Homo sapiens: one gene and its partners. The protein of the gene in region 2 interacts with the protein of the main gene of each other region in a pairwise test. Each region holds a gene or a part of one and is shown on either strand. Other genes may lie near its edges.

Region 1 (2,961 bases), on a different chromosome or scaffold from region 2:
TTGACAGCTGTCAGTCACTTTATGAAGTAGGAGGAGGCAGCATGCAACAGGCCATTTGCTTTCCTCAAATGGATGCTTGAACCACCAAAGGCTGTCCTCTAAAAAAGAAAAAGATGACTAAAAGCAGGAACAATTTCTGCTAGGTCCCTGATGTTAAAATACCATGATTATTTGAGACCAACTGTTTTCTTTAAAGCAGCATTACTCAAAGTGTTTCTAGGAATTGCTGTAACCGGAAGAAAAAAAAAAGGCTTCTCTGGTCAGGTAAGTTTGGGGAATGCTAGGTTGCATACAAGTACACAGGTTAATTTCCTGTCAGACTTCAGAGCTTTCAAAAAACCTAAGTGAACCTGTTTTGCAGACAGCATCTCTGTGTGTGAATGCTCTCCAGAGCGACTTAAAGAAATGCTGCCTTAGAGACGTTTGGTCCACAAACCAGAGTGACAGAGCTAAATCCCCATGAAATTTAAATGACGTCTTGTGTTAATAATAACACAATAAAACATCATACAACTTTAATGTTACACCATCTACAAATCTAAATTACATTTAAAATTATCAGTTGACAGTTGTACTAGGATTTACATTAGGAATCACTACATGATCAAATAGATTGTTTTTCTGTGTTTTATTGCCAAGTTATTTTTACTGAGTTAACTACTCCAGTTTCAGACTCTTTTAAATGTTTTTATGCTAAAGTATATGTATTAGTCCATTGTTGCATTGCTATAAAAAGTGCCTGAGACTCGGTAATTTATAAATAAAAGAGGTTTAGTTGGCTCACAGTTCCATGGGCTGTACAGGAAGCATGGCACTGGTATCTGATGGGCTTCTGGGGACGCCTCAGGAAACTTACAGCCATGGCAGAAAGCAAAAGGGGAGTGAGCACTCCACATGGCCAAAGCAGGAGCAAGAGAGAGTGAGGGGTGAAGTGCCAGATCTCATGAGAACTCACTATCATGAGTGAAGTACCAAGAGGGGATGGCCCCCACGATCCAATCACCTCTCACCAGGATCCACCTCCATTAGGGAATACGGTTCAACATGACATTCGGTGGCTCCAAACTGTATCAGTATACGACTTTCTTTCAGTTTTGAAAGGTTCAAATCAGTTCCTTCTTTTAAAGGATTGTGTCAGTTTAAGTCAACAAATCCATTTGAAGACATTAATTTAACTCTTCTTATTCTTAGGTATTATTATGACATACAAAAAAATAAAATAGCCATCATAGAAGGCTTAACATTTACTGAGTGCTTCTTATTGTTAGGGACCAAGAGTAACACTGAATCTCAGTCTTAAGCAAAGAACTCTAGGAAGGTGAAAACTATGATCTCCCATTTTAGAAACCAAAAAAAAAAAAAAACTTTGTTAAGTTGGCTATTAGTGATGCTAAGTTTAATCACTTGGTTAGTGACTGACAGACCTTTTAGCTAGAAAGGTAGTTTTCCCTTCGTAATGGGTAAGTCATTTGTGGGGTGATATCTTGTCACTCCTTTCCTTGCATTCACTCCACACGATTCCTAAGACATTTAATGAACTATAATATTACACTTGTGTTCAGTATTCAGAAGGCATCTGAAGTTGTATGGCACTTAATATAAAAGGCTTTAAAGCCCTCTTAAGGAGTTAACAGCAAAACTCTTAATTTTTTCAGCACCAGCTTCCAACTGTGTACTTCAGTGGTTCTCAGTCTCTGCTGCTCATTAGAAAAAGCTAAGACACTTTAAAACCTCAGGATGCCTGAACAGCACTCCAGACCAGTGAAATCAGAATCTCTAGGATGAGAGCCAGGCATTAGTAGTTTTTAAAATTTCACAGGTGATTCCCAAGTGCAAGCAAGGATGAAAGCCACTGCTCTCAGGAATGTCATTTCTTACCATTTTAAAATTTAAAAAGGTAGACACTTTTGAAAAGTCAGTAAACTGACTTTAAAGCTTTATAAAAATGTGAAAAAGTGCGACACTTTTCTTTTAAAAAAAAAAGTATTAAGATTCATGACCCCTTAAAAAGAATGCAAGCATCGGAAATATAAGCTATACCATATGACTTCTAGAAAAATCAGGCTCAGAACTAAAATAGGTTTTCTGCCCAATTACTCAGATGTTAGTGTGACCTCTTAGAAAATTGGGCAGAAAATGTATTTTAGTTCTGGGCCTGATTTCTGAGAAATCATACTAGATTTCATGACAAAGAAATGAAGCTGATAATTTGGTAGAGGGAGTAGAGGGCAGCAGCCACATTTTTCTCTGGGGTCCAAAACTGGCTGTGAGCTTCCCTCTGAGAAGAAATTGAGATCATCATGAAACATTGATGATACTCAGAAATTTCAAATCCATCAGTATACCATCTTTTCAAGCAGAGATTCCCAAACTGTACAAAAGTAGAGGTTCCAAATAAGAGCCCAACCATTAGTTATGCCCATCTTTCTGACAACCGTGAAACAAAAGAATGATGGAGAGACTATTCTTACCACAATAGTTGTTAACTACACAGTAACTTTGCTTTCCAAAACCAGAAGCACCCACCCCAAGAGCATGTTGGCTAGAATTATGCAAGAGATCATTCCTTGTAGAATCTAGTCCGCCAACTTGAATCGTCTTCTGCCAGCATCCATGAGACAGTAACTGCCCAGATCCAGTAGCAAGGACTGTCACCCCAGTGGTAGGGGAGTCAAGAACCCCACTGTCCTGTTAATGAATGTCTGGAGGCTGAGTGGCGGGAGATTGCAACAAACAAGCGGCCATTTGGGAGGAGAGTCATGCTAACATATTATCACAATGGCAATAACACTCATGACAATGGGCTGCTCAGGCAAGGGTCCCCACCACCACATCTCTCCCCGCACCCAGCTCCCGTGTCAGCAATGAGGATACACATTCTTGGGGGAGACTGAAACATTGGACTCCATCTGTTGAGCCCGAGCAGGCAGCGGCCAGAAAGTGCCCCTGGATCCGTCTCTG
Region 2 (7,157 bases):
TGTCTATGCCAGGAACTGCTGAGGGGTGGGGATGCAGCAGTGAACAAGAAAGGGTCCTGCCCTCAAGGCCCTGACCTTCGAATGATGACAGGAGACTGACAACAAACATGCAAACAAAAAACAGCTTCAGGGAGTGGGAACTCTTTTTTTGTTTTGAGACAAAGTTTTGCTCTTCCCCCCAGGCTAGAGTGAAGTGGCACGATCTAGGCTCACTGCAACCTCCGCCCCCTGGGTTCAAGTGATTCTCCTTCCTCAGCCTCCCGAGTAGCAGGGATTATAGGTGCCCACCATCACACCAGGCTCATTTTTGTATTTTTAGTAGAGACGGGGTTTCACCACGTAGGCCAGGCTGGTCTCGAACTCCTGACCTCAGGTGATCCACCTGCCTCAGCCTCCCAGAGTGCTAGGATTACAGGCACCTGGCCAAGAATGGGAACTCTTCTGGGGAAAACACACGGCAATGGCATAGAGACTGGGCAGGGCTGTTGCATCAGGATCCCGGCTGGGAAGGCCTCCTTTGTGTGGCATTGAATATAGTATACCTCTCTAGATGGACTATGTGCTCTTTGAGGACAGAGAGCGTGTCTCCTTGCTTATATTTTTTATAGCAACTTGCATGAAGACAGAAACTCAGTAGAATGCTGCTGTTCTATATCCTAGATCAGTGGTTCTCAAACTTTGGTGGCATTAAAATCACCTGGAGAGTTTGTTAAAACATACCTCAGTCCCAGAGTTTCTGGTTCAGTCATGTTAGGTGGGGCCTGAGTATTATCATATCTAACTAGTTCCTAGGTAATGCTGATGATGTTGGTCAAGGACCACATTTTAAGAACCACTGTTCTGAGCAAAAACAAAATTTGCAGGAGGTGGTGATTCTATCTGATTCAAAACCACAGTCACAGTCTTGTCTTGGTGGTTATATTCTACTACTATCTTTGGAGGCTCCTGAGGTGCTCCTTCTGTACCACCCCTGAAAACAGAATGGGGCTGATGAGATCAGAGACTGTTGTGAAGAGCAAGCTCCAGCTAAGCTCTTCACAATTACACACTAACAGTGTGCCCAGCAGAAGACTGACTTCTTCTTTCAGCTTTAACAGAGGTTCGAGACAACAAAGCAAGTGTGTAAGCCAGCTCAGTATCTTCAGAGTCTCTATCCTGTGACCACCATTGGGTTACCAGATCTCACTTCATGGTCATGGTCACTCACCAGATCAGATTTTCCCATAGTCAAATGAGTCAGAGTTCTAGGTTCTCCATCCTTCAAAAGTAATGCTCATTATGCTACAGAATGACCTCTCTGGGATCATCCCTTCTAATACCATGGATCAGGCATACCTCAACTTCTGAATGATTAGAAACATGACTTCAAATGAAAGGCCTATTTAATGAATCAGTAGGACTTCCAGCCAACTTCTCATGGAATTTTTCATCCCATCTGGCAGAAACAGCAAAACTGAAAATATCACTACTACATATATAATACCTAACTATAAGACCTGGTCCCATAGAGTGCTTCTTTTGTTTTGTTTTGTTTTGAGACAGGGTCTTGCTCTGTCACCAAGGCTGGAGTGTAGGGGTGCTATCTCAGCTCACTGCAGCCTCTGCCTCCCGGGTTCAAGCAATTCTCATGCCTCAACCTCCAGAGTAGCTGGGATCACAGGCACATGTCACTACACCCAGCTAATTTTTGTATTTTTAGTAGAGATGGGGTTTCGCCATGTTGGCCAGGCTGGTCTCGAACTCCTGACCTCAAGCAGTCCACCTGCCTCAGCCTCCCAAAGTGCTGGGATTACAAGCATGGGCCACCGCGCCAGGCCTAGAGTGCTTCTTTTATGGCAGGCACTGTAACAGAGTTTAGATATTTTAACACTTTCCATCCTTACAACAATCCCATATGATAGTTACTATTATTATCCCCATTCTATGGATGAGGAAATGGAGGCAAAGAGAAATTCAACAATTTGCCTAAGGTCCCACAGCTGATGAGTGCACAGCTGGTGTCTGAATACAGGCAGACTGATGCCAGTGTCCATGCTTTTTGCTACTAACACACTACTGGGTTTGTCCCTTACTCAGAAGTTAAATCACCTCTTCCCCCAGTACGGGAAGCACCGAGGGGAAAGTCCTCTGCAACGTTCAATTGAAGGCAATTGAATCCTGCTGCACCACAGGCTTCTACTCCAGGAGAGAAACAGAGCCAGGGCCCAAGAGCATAGGGGAGGGAGAGACAGATCCACGATCGTTGGAATACTTTACATAGAGGATCATACCATCTGCAAAGAGAGACAGTTTTACTTCTTCCTTTCCAATGTGGATGTCTTTTATTTATTTTTTTTTCTTGACTGATTGTCCTGGTTAGGGGCAATGCAATGTTGAATACCAGTGGCAAGTGCCGACATCCTTGCCTCTTTCCTCATCTTAGGGGGAAGCATTCAGTCTCTCTCCTTTAAATATGTTATTAGTGGCTGGTTTCCACAGATGCCCCTTTTAAGAATACTTTAGAAACCTAATTATTTCTAGAATGTGGGTTTTTTTTTTTTTTTAAGACGGAGTCTCTCTCTGTCCCACAGGCTAGAGTGAGTGGCAGAGTGCAGTGGCACGATCTTGGCTCACTGCAACCTCCACCTCCTGGGTTCAAGTGATTCTCCTGCCTCAGCCTCCTAAGTAGCTGAGATTACAGACATGCACCACCATGCCCAGCTAATTGTTGTATTTTAGTAGAGACAGGGTTTCGCCATGTTGGCCAGGCTGGTCTTGAACTCCTGACCTCAAGTGATCCACCCTCCTTGGCCTCCGAAAGTGCTGGGATTACAGGTGTGAGCCACCGTACCTGGCTGGGTTTTTGTTTTGTTTTGTTTTTGTTTTGAGACAGGGTCCCCCTCTGTCATCCGGGCTGGAGTGGAAGTGGCACAATCAGGGCTCACTGCAGGCTTGACCTCTGGACTCAAGCAATCCTTCTGCCTCAAAGTAGCTGATATTACAGGTGTGTGCCACCATGCCCAGCTAATTTTTTGTATTTTTAGTACAGACGGGGTTTCGCTATGTTGGCCAGGCTGGTCTCGAACTCCTGAGCTCAAGCAATTTGCCTCTCTCAGCCTCCCAAAGTGCTGGGATAAGAGGCATGAACCACTGCTCCTGGCCCTATAATGTTTTAAAAACACAGCAGCACTTCTATTTGTAACTTTTACATTTATCAGTGTATTACTTGCCAAACATGATTGTTTTGGAGTACATTATCAAGTTAGGGGAAGAAAACTAGGAACAGTATTTTGAAGCAAGCAGGGTATAGGACGTGGGGGGTAGCAGAAAAGCCCCGGGCCATGGTAGGTTTTCAGGGGTAGATTAGGAGACTAACATGCCCTGGTAAGCAGCAGGGCTCTGACGTCCGTGGGTGGTAGAATAGCAAAAACTTTTCAGTGTAGCCAGAGTTAGCAGACACCCAATGGGTTTTAAGTAAGCTACAACACACACATTTGCAAAGTTTCAGTTTAGGAGTGATCAGACTTGGGCTTAAGATGAGGCAGTGTTGGTCTAACTCCTAAAACACATGCTCCATTCCAGCATTTGAGTTAGCAACACAGGGGTTCATTATGACATCTGGCTAAGGTACTTAACCTCTAGAAATTTTACTGACAGAGTTTCCTGGGAACACAGCTATTCAAATACCAAAATGTTGCTCAACCTTTCCTCTAATTCTTGCTTCTGCCACCATTTGACGTATCTTACTGGGGCAGGGTTCCTTTGGTTGCAAGGCTTACCCAGAAAGCTTCCTGAACTACATCCAATAGAACACTCCTGGGGTAAAGGTCTCCTTCACTACTTCCCAAATTCCTCTTGGCTGCCCATCAGAAATTCCCCAGCACACAATCAGCATTCCACAAACAAAGCAAAAGGCAGGCTTTATGGATTTGGGTACCTGCCTCAAATAATTTACCACTTCTGAGCCATGAAGTGACACTACCTTTTATTTTACTAAATGACAATGAGATTCTTAAGGGAGAGAAGATTATGTCTTTCAGCTCTCTCTCTTTGCTCCCAAATAAATAAAATCCAGCTTTGACAAAAGTAGTCCCTACTTCTGTGTATGATATTGCTCTCCTCAAATTGTACTGCAATTTCTCAACTGCTCTTTTTTTTCTTTTTAATGTGTCCAGGGATGGGACAATGACAAAGCATTCACAGATTAACTTGAAGCCATTCTCCAATGTTTCATTAAAATCCTTATTCGGCTGCCTGTGCTATTCCAATCTTCCTTACATGGCAAAAATCAATATTTTAATGAGAGTAACACACAAGGATAGTCACATAAAGGGCTAGTCTGATCATACCAAAAGGACTTCCCTGAGTCCCAAACACCAGACGGTAGCTTAGAACACTCTGAGGTGGTGCTGAGGGTCCACTTGGCTCACTTAAAGCTCCCCTGGATAGTTGTACAGCCTAACTTCTGCATCCAGATGTTTCCACGAAGGAACAAGCCTCAAAACCATCTCCAGCCAGGGCAGCTGACCCTCCATACAATGCTCAGCGGAGCTCACACAATGCTCAATGGAGAAATTAAAGAGCCTAGAGGGAAGTAACATAAAAACAATTTTTTTTTTTTTTGAGACGGAGTCTCACTGTGTTGCCAGGGTGGAGTGCAGTGGTGCCATCTCAGCTCACTGCAACCTCTGCCTCCCAGGTTCAAGTGATTCTTCTGCCTCAGCCTCCTAAGTAGCTGGGACTACAGGTGTGTGCTACCACGCCCCGGTTAATTTTTGTATTTTTAGTAGAGATGGGTTTTTACCATGTTGATCAGACTGGTCTCGAACTCCTGACCTCAGGTGATCCACCCACCTTGGCTTCCCAAAGTGCTGGGGTTACAGGCATGAGCCACCGTGCCTGGCCCATAAACGCAATCCTCTTGCTCATTACACAATGTATATACGTACTAAAACATCACACTGTATCTCATAAATATATCCAATATTATATATCTATTAGAAACAAAGTAAAACTTAAGCTGGGTGCAGTAGTGCACACCTGTAATCCCTGCTACTTGGGAGGCTGAGGTGGGAGGACTGCTTCAGCCTAGGAGTTTGAGTCTAGCCTGGGCAACATGGTGAAACCCCACCTCAAAATGACAACACACACACCCACACACAAAAACTTTAAAAATGTAATTATCTGTTTCTATGATAGGACAGAAAAGGAGAGTCATGGGATTTCTTTGGGTTCAGACTACATTTTCAGAATGCTAGTTCCAGTCCACTTCTACATTAAACAGATGCTAAAATCTGTTTGAGCGCCAAACCTTCATGACAGCCAGATTTAAATTACACTTAAAAGAAGGAACAGAAACCTAGGTAATGAAAAGTAACTATCCCCCGACAATTGCATTGCATATTCAGTAGATTGTTCCCTAAGGGCTAAAAACAAAAAGTTGAATAGAAATCATATTATTTATCCAGCACTTGATTACTGGTTCAAGTAAGGCAAATAGCAGCAAGCAGGTCCTAGAGTGGGTCTTTCACAGTACCTCACAGTCCATAGTCTTCAATATTCATCAATGTTGCTGGTGGAATATTTGGAGAGTGGAAGCTAACTATATGTTAGGAGGATGGAAGATCTGTCCCTTTAAGAGATAAATATGTTATAATCCAAATATATTCAACTGTATAGTTAAATAGCCATAGTTTGGCCATATAAAATATTCAAGTTTTAGATGTCGTTTTTATTCCAACACTTTGGTAAACTGTTGGTACTGAAAACAATTGCTTAATACATGGCTGCACTGGCTGGGAGTGGGGGAGGGAAGATCAGCAGGATGCTCAAGTTCCAGTGAATGGTTCTTGGTTATAGAGCACAAGCTTGCACTCACACGAACTCTGTTGAAACTCTGTTAAAGCCAAATAAGCAAATTACCTGCTTTCTTCTTCTCTGGAGTGTGCCTTCTGTGTAATAAGGCACTAAACACACATGCCTGATGAAATCTCCTCTGAGAAAAAACTGGTAATTCTGTTCTTCAGGAATCTAAGAATACTAGATTTATAACAAGACAGAATAAATTCCAGGTTCCCCTGCAGGTATAAGGACAAACTTTCCCAGATTCTTGACACAGAAGGTTCTGTGGGAGATACCTAACCTAGAAGCCCTGGGCTTTGCTAGACCCTTTGGAGCTGAGCTTCCCAAGAGATGTGATCCCAGGGACAACCCACTGGATGTTTCCCATGGTCTGCAGGCAGCAACCTCAGAGGGCGGGGTGGAGGGGGAGGGGAATGGTGAGAAGCCATGGGATACAGAAGGAAAAATAAAGACAACATCTCATAATGCATTAAATGAAGCTGATATGATAAATTCAATGTCGGACAAAGCATTTTACCTAAATGGGATGCTTGCCTCAAGTCCATAGCTATCATCTTCAGTATTTTCTCAGAATGATTCCTTCCCTTATTCATCCTTTACTAAATGCCATGTTCCACTCAAGGGGCAGGGCTACTATGAGAATGATCAAGAATGAGAAGGAAGGTCCTGACTCTCTAGAATACACAGTTGAGAGTGGGGGGGAGGGAGGGAGGGAGAGGGAGGGAGAGAGAGGGAGGGAGGGAGAGAGAGAGAGAGCGCATGATTGAGAGAGAGCACGAGTGAGCATGCAGTCAGGGAAGACAAAAACACAGCAGGACCATACCATAAAACATAAGGGTGACATTGCGACAAAGGATCTGAAGAGCATAAAGTGATATGTGAGAGAGAACACAGGTAAAGAAAACAGCAAGAGCAGAGACTTGGAGACAGAAAAAGGCTTGACTTGTATGAAGGAGAGAAAAGAGTCCAGTGTGTCTGAAGGGTAGTGATATAGACTAGAGGAAGAAAAGTAGGAGAAATCAATTATTATTACTTATTACCACCGTGCACAGTATTTAGTAAGGGGCAAACCTTGTTCTAAGCAGTTAGTTCATCAGTATTAACTCATTTAGATCCTCACAGCATCCCTATGATATTACTCCCATTTTGCAGATGAAGAAACGCAGTACCAGAAAGGTTAAGTGACCTGCCCAAGGTCACACAGCGATCACAGAGCACAGCCAGATCCCCACACCCCCAAGCAGTCTGGCTCCAGTTTGTGCTCTCAGCCTTTTGCTATATTGTCTCTCAATGAGGTTGAAAAGCAAGTTTGACCA
Region 3 (7,000 bases), on a different chromosome or scaffold from region 2:
ATACCCTTTTTCTGTGGTATTTAAGCCCTGGGCCTTTGGGGTAATGGTGCAGGAATGCACCATCTCCTCTCACTGCTGCCCAACGCATGGCTTCTGTTCCTAAAACCCTGTTAAATGTTTCTTTCTGAGTAACTGGATTTGTCAGTTTTTCTTTAGCCTCTCAGCTTCCTCAGCCTTTCTGGGTAGTTTTGCAAAGACCTGCCTACTGAAGAACAAAAGTTAACACTTCCGCCTCCAAGCTTCAGTCTGAAGACTACAGAGCCTTGAGACAGGAGATTAAGGGGTCTAGAGAAGGGTAAGCAGGCAATGAATGGCAAATATAGTTCCTGAGGAACCTTAGTCACCCAGTAAATCCAGACAGCCACAGGCACAGCCCTTGACTCTCCCAACAGTGTTTTTATCCCCAGACAACATTTCCCATGCAGTACTTGAAAGTTCCACAAATATCTGATTCATATTAATGGGCTTGGCAATTAGGAAGTGGCTGATTATTGAAGATCATCCCCAAAAAATGCCTACGGAACTGCTCTAGGTGAGGCTGGGACTGTCACAGAAGGGAGCCCCTGCCCCACCCCTTTTAACCTACTGTATCTCCCCCCACCCCCACGTCTAACATGACTCTCCCCACAGGATCAAATACCTAAGAGCTGAGATGCCAAGTAAAATACAAGTATTTCCTTGATTTAAAAAGTAGTTTGAAAAAATCTCTCTTACAGCATTGACATGTTCGAACACAAATTTACAGTTAAATTAAAAATAAAGTTTGCACTACAAGTGTTAAAAAAATTCTTCCCTGAATATTATCCCATAACCTTTTACATCTCCAGAAAAACTGTGGAAGGAAGTGAAATACCTTCCTCTTGCAGACTGCTCTTTGTGAGGTGAAGAGGTTAGATGACTTTTTGAGAATGGAAGACAGATCCTGGGTCTTGCGCTTTAGAATCCTGAATATTAAACCATCTAGATCTCTTGAATCATCCTTTATGATAGGCCCCAGATGCCAACAGGATCCAAATATCAACTTCTAGGATAGCACCAACTAGTTATGTCAGGACAAGATTGTGCTACTCAACCTCATTTTCAACATCCATGTGTTGGAATTGATATGAATAGGAAGTATGGCAATGCTCACACCAAAACTATTGTCCTCAGCATGACGGAGGAGGTGCAGCACACTTCATTAGCTTTTTCCTACCTTAACACCAGCTTATATCCTCAAACAGTCATCCAACACACCTGAACAATGCCCTAAGTAAATACGTAGATATGGTGCCTGGCCAGGAAACTTATGTGCTGGAGGTTGGCTGATGTCATCAAAGTTTTCCTATTCCTTCAGGAATTACAAAACTCTAAGACAGGAAATTAAGGGGTTGGGAGAAGGGGAAACAAGCGGTAAATGGAAAATGTAGTTTCTGAGGAAAATTCCTGAGAACTCCCTCTGGAGAGACTGGGGAGTTACCCCTTCTTCTTCTCATTCTATGACTGGGTTTGTAACTGGGAGCTGGACTCAACCCATGCCGCATGAAGGCTGGATCATGCTCGGGAGTATCCCAGCCTCAGTCGAGCCCCTCTCTACCATCACCCCCACATATAAATAAAAACAATTTTCTTCTTTCCCATTTTGAATTGAAATGATTGTCCACTGGAGGATGTAAAAACTTTAACGAATACTAATAATCATTAAAAAATTGGTAACTACCTAAAGAACTTTAAATGATGTGGAAGACTGTATCATGCAAATCATAAAAATAATAATGTTCACAAATAATTTTTAATGACTTGGCAAAATGATCTAAACATAATATCAAAATCCTAAAGGTAGTCCACAAGACTATAAAGAAATCTAATCTCAAATTATTTTAGAAATGCAACTAAACAAAAGACTAGAAGAAAATATGACCAAATATTAATATTACAGATGGGTTTTATGGGTAACTGAACATATATCATTTTTCAATCAAAATAAGCAACAACATGAAATAATATATGGAATAGATGTAGTCATATATAGTTAGCATTCTATACATTTTTTGTTTTATACACACATACAACACTAATAAAATAAACAGTCATTTCTAAAACAAGTTAAAATTGGGCCAAGCATGGTGGCTCATGCCTCTAATCCCAGCAATTTGGGAGGCCAAGGCAGGCAGATCACTTGAGGTCAGGAGTTCAAGACCAACCCGGACAACATGGCAAAACCCCGTCTCTACTAAAAATACAAAAATTAGCTGGGCGTGGTGGCACATGCCTATAATTCCAGCTATTTCGGAGGCTGAGGCATGAGAATTCCTTGAACTTGGGAGGCAGAGGTTGCAGCGAGCCAAAGTCGTGCCACTGCACTCTAGCCTGGGTGACAGAGTAAGACTTTCTCTCAAAAAAAAAAATAAATAAATACAATAAGTTAAAATAATGACAGCTTATGGACACATGGTTCTTCAAAGTTTTTTAAAACTCTTTCAAATACATTATTTATTATTTTATCATCATAGTAATATATCAGACACACCAGATGAAGTATAATTATTTTTAGCAAACAAATGAAAAGAAAAAGAATTCAAATCAACAGGTATCAGGATATAAATAAAATATAAATCAGTGTTTAAGTAAGTTGAAACATTAAGAAACCTCTTCAAGATCCAATGAGCAGAGTTTAAAGTAAAACACTGGTTTCTATATTTCTTCTGGAGCTTATAAAACAACAAAATACAACAACAACAGAAAACAAAAACACAAGAATCAGGCATATCTCCCACCCATACAATATATTCCAAGCCGGTCTTAAATTCACATTATAAATAATGAAATGGCTATGAGTACATCTTCCATTTCAGTGTAAGTCACAAGCCTTAAGTAAGTTCTTAAAATGTGTTATTTATTCACATCTAAATCCTCTTACCTGCAGCAAGACATAAGCCTATGATGATCACTGTAATGACACCTAGGAAAATGGAGGTGATGATCATCCACAGTTTGCATCTTCCAACCACATTCTTATTACAGGAGCTCCAGGGGCTTTCCTTGTTAGCCTAGAAAGGCAGAGGGAGATTGTGAGGCAGTCATTGTGTTGCAACAGACAGTTCTGAATACCTAGGATGTGCCAGAGACACAGAAATGAAGGCAGCAAGACCCTGACCTTAGGGCAACACTCTACTGAATCAAGTTTTCAAAAAGAGAGATCAGAGGCAGAACAGAACCTCATCAAGAAGTTAGCAAGAAAATCCTCTGGGGGCTCTGAAGTGGGGAGGATAGGCAGGATTTTGAAAGATGGATTTTTGAAGGCATTCCAAACCCAGGAAAGAGCATCCAAAGTGTGGATTCGTAATGGAACCGGCCAGCAGACTAGCCTGCCGACTGGAATGTGGGTTTCAGAGGCAAATAATGAAAGTTAAGATTAGAGAGAGTGAAAGGCTGGGAGCACACTCAGAGGGTGTTGATAGCTGTCCCAGAATAGATTGGACTTAATTGGGTGTGCACTGGAAACTTGAAGGTTTTGAAACACCAGAGCCGAGTTGAAAATTAAGGGAAAATCATGTGTGGTTTAGAGTGGAAACACCAAGAAAAAGCTACAAGGCTACTGCTGTGGCCTAGGTTCTATGTAAAAAAGGGTTGGGAAGGGAAATGAAAGGACAGCTGCAAGAGACAACAGGAAATAAGCTGCAAAGCTGGAGTGAGAAGGCTGGAGTGAGGCAGAGGAGGGGTCAATGAAAACAAGTACAACTGCTATGGTTTATTGAGCACCAGCGTCATTTCACTTAACCCTAACAGCCCTTCAGGGTGTGCACTAGTCCATTTCAAAGACGCAATTCAGAGAGATGAGCCAGAACCAATCCCTGCTGTGTGTCTCCACAAAGCTCTCCAACTTTCCCTTTTGTCCACATCACTGTGCAGAGCTCCGGTTTATGAGGGTGTCACAGAGGGGCCCCCACCTTACCCTATATGGTCCCATGACTCTTCTCCTACTTCCCACTCCACCATTAGATAATTCTTTCATGGAGACCATGGGAAACAACAGAATACAATGGGGAAAAAATGTGTCTGTATCTAACACACTTGGATTCCAAACCAAGATATACCACTTAAAGGCAAGGTGGCTTTAAGCAAGCTACTGAAACTCATAGGCCCCAAAGTCCTCAGCTTTAAAATATATAAATAGTAAATTAGCTCACAGGACTGTTGCAAAAACTAGAGATAATGGACACAAAGCATCTGCTAAACAATTATTGGGAGTTCGGCCAAAGGGTGCAACTGCGCCTCAGTCATTCCTCAGCGTTCACCATCCCACAAAGCAGCAGCCGGCACTCGAGGAGACTCGCTCCTGACCGACACCTGGCCACCTGGCCTGCTTTCTCTCCCATTCTTTTTTTTTTTTTTCTTTTTTTCTTGAGATGGAGTCTCGCTCTGTCGCCCAGGCTGGAGTGCAGCAGCACGATCTCCGCTCACTGCAAGCTCCGCCTCCCGGGTTCACGCCATTCTCCTGCCTCAGCCTCCCGAGTAGCTGGGACTACAGGCGCCCGCCACCACGCCCGGCTAATTTTTTGTATATTTAGTAGAGACGGGGTTTCACTGTGTTAGCCAGGATGGTCTCGATCTCCTGACCTCGTGATCCTCCCGCCTCAACCTCCCAAAGTGCTGGGATTACAGGCATGAGCCACCGCGACTGGCCTTCTCTGCCATTCTTATTTTGGTGCTGGCCATCAGAAAACGAATCGGTCAGTCCACACTTGGACTGTATTTCCAACCTTCTCAATTAGAGGTGCCCAAGCCTGGCTGCACATCAGAATCACTGGGTAAGGATTTTAACTGACACATACCTAGGCCCCACCTGCACCTAGTGGACCAGATTGTAAGGGAGGTGGGAGGAGGCCATGGCAGACCTCTGGTCTGAGGCCTCCCACCTTTCGGGAGTTAGGTCAAATCTCCCCTTTGGTGGAAGCCTCCCTCCCCACCTGCCCTTAGTGAGATCTTCCAATACCTGAGCTGTCCACATAGCCCATCTGCTGTTGCCACTGACTGCCCTGTCCGGTTTCAGGTTCAAAAACAAACAGAGCCTGGCCTTATCTTCCTGCGTAAACTGAAACCACATAGAGGAGGGGTGCTCTTAAACTGCCCTGTTCTTATATTCCACACCTGTGCCTTCTACAAGTAATATACATTTAACGATTGTGGGCTGTTTAGTTGTAGAGGCCTCCCAGAAATTTTAAGAATGGACTTTGAGAAAATCTAGATGAGGGGACAAATGTTGGATTTCCCAAGTGCACTTTACACTGACTCTGAGGCCTAGCCTGTCAGAGGTGCGAGGGGAGCACTTAAAGGCCCTAGGGATATCTTGACAGAGGAAATCCCTCTTGAGTTAAGTGCATTTCTGGAATCCAGGGATAGGGTCACCTCTCATCCCCACTCAAAACCTGCAGAACTGCTTCAAAGCCAGGGGAAGCCACACGGGAAAAAGACATCCCAGTACAAAGAATCTTCAGTTTCTCAGGGGACAGAAACATCTCCCCATTTACAGAGCTCCTGAGGCCAAAGCCCTGGTGCTATTTTCAGCCCTCATAAAAGGCAGCTGGGACCCATAAAGATTAGCACAAAAGGAAATATCTAGTTTCAAATGAGCCATAGAATGAGTGTCAATGCACCTCCTTGGCCTCTCATGCCTTTATTTATGCTGTCCCTTAGAGATCACAAATTAGGACTCTGGTGTGTTGAAAAAAACCACTAATTACTCTATGACTTCCTGGAGGAACTCAGCTTAAAATTTTACAGCCGTCATCTATAGGAAATGCCTCTTCCTGTAGCCTAGTGCCCTCACTGACCTGTCCTCAGCTCTAAGAGGAAGACCGCTGAGCGCTATCCCTTACATGATTAATATTCACAGACTTTATGTCATTATAAAATGGTCTGTCACAACAAAAAATAAAAATAAAAAAATAGCCAGACATGACGGTTTACACCTGTGGTCCCAGATACTGAGGAGTCTGAGGTGGGAGGATCGCTTGAGCCCAAGAGGTCAAGGCTGCAGTGAGCTATGAGCATACTACTGCACTCCAGCCTGGGTGGCAGGAGTGAGACTCTCTCAAATGAAAAAAAAAAAAAAAAAAAAAGCACATGAAACTGTCAGACACTCCCAGCCAAACAATAGACTGTACAGTGCTTCTCAGCTGTCTGCCCATTAGAATCAGCTGAGGAATTAGTATCTTTTAGAAGTAACGCCCGGAGATTCCAATGTGCCCTGAGGGTGAAGAGCCTGTGACACAGTAGGTGTGTGCTACCTGTGCCATCTGAGTCTTGCCTCAAAACTGGATCATGAAGACACACTGCCTTCTTCACTGGCTTCATCTCTCTTGCCCAAATTCTAGATCGTGAGGAGAGGCCACACATAGATTCTTCTGCAAGGTGCCTTCCGGAGATATTTGCAACTGCATCTTACATTCTATTATTGTTTTACATGGCTTAATAATTTACATTTGCAATCTGCATCTTATATTCTGTGATCATATTATATGGCTCAAGAATTTTCAGGGCTTTCCTATGAACATTCCCCGGATATTTACATCCGTCTTTAGATAAAGGTCTAAATACATGACACAGGATCCTGCAACAGTGGCAGGATACCTATCTCTTACATCTAAAAAGCCTTTCTTCTTTTTGACTCAATCAGAAGCAGATATTATATAGATCAGGGAAAATTTTCTTACAGGTAGGAAACTCTTCATAATACTCATTGTGGGATTTAATCCACTTGTTTGATCCAAGCACAAAAGAGCCAGTTGATTCTTGTCCTAAACTGAACAACACGTGGCAATGGAGCTAATTTTTAGCTAGCTCATTGAAATAAATCTTTTTTTTTTTTTTTTTTTTTGAGACGAAGTTTCACTCTTGTTGCCCAGGCTGGAGTGCAGTGGCGTGATCTGGGCTCACCACGACCTCCGCCTCCCAGGTTCAAGCGAGTCTCCTGCCTCAGCCTTCCTGAGTAGCTAGGATTACAGGCATGCGCCACCAC

Evidence for each region. The genes of interacting proteins can lie anywhere in the genome.
Region 1: the proteins of MGST3 (region 2) and FUNDC2 interact in binary tests that used the Homo sapiens proteins (3 or more experiments, as listed by UniProt).
Region 3: the proteins of MGST3 (region 2) and C3orf52 interact in binary tests that used the Homo sapiens proteins (3 or more experiments, as listed by UniProt).

What each region holds. Positions count from the first base shown.
Region 1 is NC_000023.11:155,057,844-155,060,804, reverse strand, and holds the end of FUNDC2 (FUN14 domain-containing protein 2), read right to left. Parts: 3' UTR 501-2,961; downstream 1-500. UniProt on the Homo sapiens protein: Binds directly and specifically 1,2-Diacyl-sn-glycero-3-phospho-(1'-myo-inositol-3',4',5'-bisphosphate) (PIP3) leading to the recruitment of PIP3 to mitochondria and may play a role in the regulation of the platelet activation via AKT/GSK3B/cGMP signaling pathways.
Region 2 is NC_000001.11:165,634,181-165,641,337, reverse strand, and holds part of MGST3 (glutathione S-transferase 3, mitochondrial), read right to left. Parts: intron 1-7,157. UniProt on the Homo sapiens protein: Displays both glutathione S-transferase and glutathione peroxidase activities toward oxyeicosanoids, as part of cellular detoxification as well as synthesis of bioactive metabolites.
Region 3 is NC_000003.12:112,089,389-112,096,388, reverse strand, and holds part of C3orf52 (TPA-induced transmembrane protein), read right to left. Parts: intron 3,030-7,000; coding exon 2,900-3,029; intron 1-2,899. UniProt on the Homo sapiens protein: Has a role in LIPH-mediated synthesis of 2-acyl lysophosphatidic acid (LPA). LPA is a bioactive lipid mediator involved in different biological processes, and necessary to promote hair formation and growth.